Homo sapiens: one gene and its partner. The protein of the gene in region 2 purifies or fractionates together with the protein of the main gene of each other region. This does not show direct contact. Each region holds a gene or a part of one and is shown on either strand. Other genes may lie near its edges.

Region 1 (3,815 bases), on a different chromosome or scaffold from region 2:
CCAGGCTGGAGTGCAGTGGTGTGATTTCAGCTCACTGCAACCTCCACCTCCCCGGTTCAAATGATTCTCATGCCCTAGCCTCCCAAGTAGCTGGGATTACAGGCATTTGTGACCACACCAGGCTAACTTTTATTTATTTATTTATTTTGAGACAGAGTCTCGCTCTGTCGCCCAGGCTGGAGTGCAGTGGTGTGATCTCGGCTCACTGCAAGCTCCGCCTCCCGAGTTCACACCATTCTCCTGCCTCAGCCTCCCGAGTAGCTGGGACTACAGGCACCCGCCACCACGCCCGGCTAATTTTTTGTATTTTTTTAGTAGAGACGGGGTTTCACTGTGTTAGCCAGGATGGTCTCGATCTCCTGACCTTGTGATCCGCCCACCTCAGCCTCCCAAAGTGCTGGGATTACGGGCGTGAGCTACTGCGCCCGGCCTCTTTTGTATTTTTAGTAGACACGGGGTTTCACCATGTTGGCCAAGTTGGTCTTGAACTTCCAACCTCAGGTGATCCGCCCACCTCAGCCTCCCAAAGTGCTGGGATTACAGGTGTGAGCCACAGCACCAGGCCTCATTTTTGAGTCCCTCACAGTGCCTAGCGCAGTACCTTGCAAAGAAAAGGAAACTTACAGGCCAGGCACACTGGCTCATGCCTGTAATCCCAGCACTTCAGGAGGCCAAGGAGGGAGGATCACTTGAGGCCAGGAGTTCAAGACCAACCTGGGCAATGTAGCAAGACCCCGTCTCTACAAAGAATAAAGACAATTTTAAAAAAATTAGCCAGGTGTGGTGGCATATACCTGTAGTCCCAACTACTCTGGAGGCTGAGGCTGGAGGATCGCTTGAGCCCAGGAATTGGAGGCTGCAGTGAGCTATGATGGTGCCACTGCACTCCAGCCTGGGTGAGAGTGAGACCCTGTCTCAAAACAACAACAACCACAACAAAACAAAAAACAAAGAAAGAGAACCTAAAATTATTTGTTGAAGGATGAAGAATGCACGGCTCAAGTTTATCAGTTCTCACTGGTTCCCACCTGCATTTGAAGTCACATGATCCTGCTGCCAGCAAAACGTTGTTGGGATGCCAATCCAAGCTGAGGACTGTGGAGCGAATCGGCTTTTTAATGTGCTTGCTCACCCACCTATGAGAGGGGAAAACTGTTTCAGTTTATCCACTCAACCAGCATCCCCAAATGACCTACAAATGTATGTCAGGTGAAAATACCTAAGTAGGCCACACTTTTCCTTAATTTAAAAAAAAATTATAAAACAATTCAGAATATTATTTTTTTCAGAATAAACTTTTTCAGATAGGTTTCTATAAAAAAAGATTCTATAGAAAAGTAACAGAGCATTCAACGTTCTTCTGTCGGTCACCAGGCCTTCTGCCAGAGACAAGGTTTTTTGATACCAGGTTATGATCTGAGACTGGCTAATTTTTGTATTTTTTGTAGAGATGAGATTTCTCCATGTTGCCCAGGCTGGTCTCAAACTCTGGGGCTCAAGTGATCTACCGGCCTCAGCCTCCCAAAGTGCTGGGATTACAGGCATGAGCCACTACGCCCAGCTGACAAGGTGCATTGCTAAAGGACAGAAAGGAAAAGAACCATGAACAGGCCTTCTCCACTCCTGGCCCTGATGTTCTCAGCACAACAGCTGGTTTTCAGCAGTCCTCATTAGTAAGCATAGATATTGATTAACTCAGTTATGTTTTCGTGAGATTTCGGATTACATAGGACGTTAACCTCTGAGATAAAAACTGAAGTTTGAAAATACTTCAATTTTTATTATGAATATTCAGTGATTTGCTGAATTTTTGGTGAATTTGGGGTTGTAAGACAGCTTAATATCCTTCCCAAGTCTCCACGAATCTGCAAATTCTTTTTAATTTCTTTCACTGAAAAATCACAACCAAGAAATTAGAAGAACCTCATGTTGGGGATTAGCCTCTAATTCGCTAGCACCATCCAAAAAAGATGATTTATGTCTAGGACCAGTCAGTATTTTGGCTTAACTAATTCATTTCTGCCCCCAAACTGCTGTTTAAAAACCAATCACGTCTGGTTGCTCAACAGTTGGGAGACTAAATATTGAGCCAATGCCTTTCCTTCAATGCTAAATTACCTTTCTATAGAATCACTTTCTTTCTTTTTTTTTTTTTTTTGAGATGGAGTTTCGCTCTTGTTGTCCAGGCTGGAGTGCAATGGCGTGATCTCAGCTCACCGCAACCTCCACCTCCCGGGGTCAAGCAAGAATCACTTTCTTTTATTTATTTATTTTTTATTTTTTTGAGACAGAGTCTTACTCTGTCATCCAGGCTGGAGTGCAGTGGCGCAATGTCAGCTCACTGCAACCTCTGCCTCCTGTGTTCAAGCAATTCTTGTGCCTCAGCCTCCCGATAGCTGGGATTATAGGCTCACGCCACCACGCCCGGCTAATTTTTGTAATTTTAGAGGAGATTAGCTTTCACCATGTTGGCCAGGCTGGTCTCAAACTCCTGGTCTCAGGTGATCTGCCTGCCTTAGCCTCCCAAAGTGCTAGGATTACAGGCATGAGCCACCACGCCTGGCTACAGAATCACTTTCTTAGTATCCTGTCTGAAGAAGTTCATTCTGAAAAAGACAGCCAGGTGCAGAGGCTTGCAACTATACTCCCAGCACTTTGGAAGACCAAAGCAGAAGGATTGCTTGAGTACAGGAATTTGAGATCAGCCTGGGCAAGAAAAGTGAGAACCTGTCTCCACAAGTAATCAAAAAATTAGCCAGGTGTGGTGGTGCAAACCTGTAGTCCCAACTACTTGGGAGGCTGAAGTGGCAAGACTGCTGGATCCCAGGAGTTGGAGACTGCAGTGAGCCGTGTTTGTACCACTGTACTCCAGACTGGGTGACAGAGAGAAACCCTGTCTCAAAAAATAAATAAATAAATAAAATAAAAAACCAAAATCCCCCACAAAGTCTCTAAAAAAGGAGAAAAAGACAGTATTTCGAATTGTTTCATAATGTATACATATTTTTTGAGACAGAGTCTTGCTCTGTTGCCCAGGCTGGAGTGCAGTGGCATGGTCTCGGCTCATTGCAACCTCTACCTCCCTGGTTCAAGCGATTCTCCTGCCTCAGACTCCCAAGTAGCTGGGATTATAGGCATGCACCACCACACCTGGCTAATATTTTGTATTTTTAGTAGAGATGGGGTTTCTCCATGTTGGCCAGGATGGTTTCGAACTCTTGACTTCGTGATCCGCCTGCCTTGGCCTCGCAAAGTGCTGGGATTGCAGGCGTGAGCTACCGTGCCTGGCCTTTATAATGTAATTTTTTTAATTAAGGAAAAGATGGCAAGCAAAATAATTAGTTCATATGGCTGAATTATAAACTTCTGAGAAGTTGTTTTAAAGTACTCCTATGAAATATGAAATAATTGTTCTACAGCTGAGAAACTGCCCTAAACATACAGCTTGTTCAAAGACAATACCTTGTACCATAATAAAGTCCAATTTACCTATACTTGACACTAATTCTCAACGAATAAAAATGTAAACAATTACTGAGGTTGAAGCTTAACTTGGAAGAAAAGTTTCCTGTAGAAATTTGTAAGATTGCAAGGAGTACCAGCTGACATAAAGTTTAGCCTTGAGAGAATATTAATGAAGTTAGTTTCCTATCTCATTACAATGAAACTTCCAAATAGTTTCTAGCAGGTAACATTTTGTTAGCCTTGATTTCACATTTGAAAGAAAAATGTATGTTTCAAATTCGTAACTCAATTTTTTTTTTTTTTTTTGAGACGGAGTTTCACTCTTGATGCCCAGGCTGGAGTGCAATGGC
Region 2 (3,815 bases):
CAGTTATACATGAACGCCCCTCCCCCAAGTCTGACACAGCTTCTTAAGTCCACACACCAGAAATCCAGACCCACTCCCAGAATCCTGATACAGAGCTACAACCCTTAGCCCACAGAAACACTAACTTCTGTGTGCACTGTTACTGCACAAGGCCCTGACACACCTGAAAGTGATTACAGAAACTGACCCTTCAGAAGACCCCGTGCACATCTACAGACCTGACTCACCCCTGAACATCGCAGTGCTCTGAAGATTCTGATATACAACTGAGGCCCTCAAACCCCTGCAGCCTGACCTATACCATAAAAGCTTAAGCATGGGGTCTCTGGCCACACCCGAGGCCCTTGTGCCCCTTATCCTGGCACACAACCAAGCCTTCCTTGTGCATGACACACACAAGAGACAGCAATGGGGGAGTCTCTCTGGAAGAGGCAGGGATTTTCCTCCTTCCTGGAGAGCTGCCTCTGCTTCCCTGAATCCCTCGCTGATGGGTCCCTGGATTACAGGACTAGGAGCCTGGAGACACGAGCTAAATCCAGAAGGGAAAGGGCAGGCAGTGGTTGGGTTGGCATGCATGATAGTGAGGGTTCCTCTGTGTCCCCTCCACTCCAAGCTGTTCCTTATGTTCAGGCCTAAGCTGTTCTCAGGCCATGTGTAAAGCCCAGTTTCACTGCTTCCTCCTCCTCAGAGACCTGAACTCCTCACAGGCAGGGACGGACCATGTCTTCTTAGTCTGCCCTCTCCAGGGTGCTCGGCTACATGCCAGGCCCATGGGAGGGCTGAATGAGGAGTGGATCAACTAACAAACGGATGGGAAGACAAGTGTCTAAGTACCTGGGACAGAAGAATGGATGAGTGGATGGCCTGAAGAACAGATAGGTAGTAGATGGGAGAATGGAATAGCAGGTAGATAGATGGGTAGGTGGATCTGTGGAAGGATAGGTAGGCAGGGAGTGGATAGATGGATGGGGAGTATGGAGCTGACATCAGGTAGATGAATGACGAGATTAACAATGGGTGACAGGTGGGAGGATGGAAGGATGAGTGGAAGGGTGGGTGGGTGAATCGGTAGATCAGAGAGTGGGTGAATACGTGGGTGGATGAGTGGATGGATGGCTGGTGGATGGATGGATAGATGGGTAGATGTGAATCATACACAGATGTGTGGATGAACCAGTAGGTGCGTGGATGAATAGATAGGTAGAAGGGCAGATAGGTGGAAGGGCGGATGGGTGGAGGATAAATGGGTGGGAGAGTGGAGGTAACCACAGTACTTACCTGAGGCCTCTTCCTCTACTGCCTGAATAGGGTATGACTTCCACTCAGACTTCACCACCAGCTTGAGAACGTTGCGGGCAGCAGTCAGCCAGAAGTCCTCTGCTCCCAGGCCAGGGGATACCCTGCTCAGCCCCTAGGCTTGAGGCCTGTTCTGGTTCCAGAACCTGATCATGACTTGCCCCATTTTGGATCCAGAACCTGACTCTACCTTTTCTGACTCTAGAGCCTGAGTTTAGAACTTGCTCCTGTTTCAGGCTGGTCACGGTGGCTGACGCCTGTAATCCCAGCACTTTGGGAGGCTGAGGTGGATGGATCATGAGGTCAGGAGATCGAGACCATCCTGGCTAACACAGTGAAACCCCGTCTCTACTAAAAATACAAAAAATTAGCCAGGCGTGATGGCGGGCGCCTGTAGTCCCAGCTACTCGGGAGGCTGAGGCAGGAGAATGGCGGGAACCTGGGAGGCGGAGCTTGCAGTGAGCCAAGATCGCGCCACTGCACCCCAGCCTGGGTGACAGAGCGAGACTCCGTCTCAAAAAAAAAAAAGAACTTGCTCCTGTTTCAGTTGTGTAACCAGACCCCAAATCTGACCTGACTTGGATCATATTCTGCCTTCAGAATCTGGCTTGGACCCATTGTCTGATTTGTTTCTTCTGTTCATCACCTACTTTTGATACTTATTCTGTCCTGAGAACCAGACTGTGTCCTAGTTCAGATTCTGAATGTAATTTAAATCTAGCATAGAATCTGGATCCAAATTCTAACCTGAATTTAGAACATATTGTGGAATCGGAACCTAGTCTGCCTTAGAAATCCAAAGCCTGCAGCCTTTTTTGGAACCCAATTCAACAAATGGAACTTGATATAAGCCTGGAATCTGTTCTGGATTCCAAACTCAAGGGACTGACCAACTTTTAGAACCTGCTCTAGAATATAAGCCAAGCTACCCAAGCTTTTCTGGAGGTCAGAGTTGACCAAGCTAAGAGGCTTATTAAGGGAGGGCACATTAGGGAAGGATAAGGATTGAGGGTGGAAAGGGAAATCTGCTGGGGCAGGCAGATGAGGGCATGAAGAGAGGCCTGTTTCTCTCCAATATGAGCCAGAGCTTCAGCCCTGCTCTGTCAGCCTGAGGTTCAGGCATAGGGCTGGGGGTCTCCTTACCTATGAAGGCTTTTTTGTCATCCTCAGCCCCCAGGCAGTAGCAGCGTGGGAAGAAGGAGTTGGCATCAACCTCATCAAACCACGGCAAATTCCGGAGATTGAGACATAGACCCACCTACGGAGTTAGCCACTGAGAGGGCAGGGCAGGACTGCCCACACTCACCACACACCCAGACAGTTCAGAAAGACTCTGACTGGATCTGCGCTCAGAGCCTTGGCCCCGCTTGCAAGGTCTGAGTTGCTCACATCTATCACCATATATTTGCCTGGGAGGTGTCCTTTGCCAAGAATGCCTGATGTCCCTCCTGTCCCCCCTTTCACATTCTTTTTTTTTTTGAGATGGAGTCTCACTCTGTCACCCAGGCTGGAGTGCAGTGGCGCGATCTCGGCTCACTGTAAGCTCTGCCTCCCGGGTTCACACCATTCTCCTGCCTCGGCCTCCAGAGTAGCTGGGACTACAGGCGCCCGACACCACATCCAGCTAATTTGTTGTATTTTTAATAGAGACGGCATTTCACCGTGTTAGCCAGGATGGTCTCGATCTCCTGACCTGGTGATCTGCCTGCCTCGGCCTCCCAAAGTGCTGGGATTACAGGCGTGAGCCACTGTGCCCGGCCCACCCTTTCTCATTCTTAAAGAGCTGCCAAGGCCGAGCGCGGTGGCTCACACCTATAATCCCAGCACTCTGGGAGGCTGAAGTGGGAGGACTGCTTGAGGCCAGAGGCCAGGAGTTCAAGACCAGCCTAGGCAGCATAGCAAGACCTCATCTCTTAAAAATAAAAAAAGAGCTGCTTCCTCTAGAATCCTTCCTAACCCACACCAATAATATAATGGCAGGTCATTATTATAAAGCCCTTCATCCTTGCCACAACCCCAGAAGATGGGCCTTACTGGTATTCTCATTGAAAGATGAGGAAATTGAGGCTCAGAGAGGTGAAGTCACTTGCTAAGAACACCAGGTAAGGCTGCGCATGATGGCTCGTGCCCGAAATCCCAGCACTTTGGGAAGCTGAAGCAGGTGGATCACCTGAGGTCACCAACATGGTGAAACCCCATCTCTACTAAAAAATACAAAAATCAGCCAGGTGTGGTGACACGCACCTGTAGTCCCAGCTACTCAGGAGGCTGAGGCAGGAGAATTGCTTGAACTGGGAGGCAGAGGTTGCAGTGGGCTGAGATTGCACCACTGCACTCCAGCCTGGGAGACAGAGCAAGACTCTGTCTCAAAAAAAAAAAGAAACCCAGGTAAGACAGAATGGGTCCATTAGCCAGATATCTTCTGCTTAGGAGGTAAGAGTCCGTTTGCTCACTATCATTGGATTTGGTGATTGTTCTACCTCCAGACCCATTTTAGACATCATATCTACAAATGCCGG

Evidence for each region.
Region 1: the proteins of ARPC4-TTLL3 (region 2) and ARPC1A fractionate together in Homo sapiens (co-fractionation; one large-scale study listed by BioGRID). This does not show direct contact.

The regions. Positions count from the first base shown.
Region 1 is NC_000007.14:99,346,173-99,349,987, reverse strand, and holds part of ARPC1A (actin-related protein 2/3 complex subunit 1A), read right to left. Parts: intron 1,137-3,815; coding exon 1,029-1,136; intron 1-1,028. UniProt on the Homo sapiens protein: Probably functions as a component of the Arp2/3 complex which is involved in regulation of actin polymerization and together with an activating nucleation-promoting factor (NPF) mediates the formation of branched actin networks.
Region 2 is NC_000003.12:9,816,384-9,820,198, reverse strand, and holds part of ARPC4-TTLL3 (ARPC4-TTLL3 fusion protein), read right to left. Parts: intron 2,555-3,815; coding exon 2,440-2,554; intron 1,645-2,439; exon of another isoform or gene 1,378-1,644; coding exon of another isoform or gene 1,279-1,377; intron 1-1,278. Other genes in the region: tubulin monoglycylase TTLL3, read right to left, coding at 1,279-1,377, 2,440-2,554.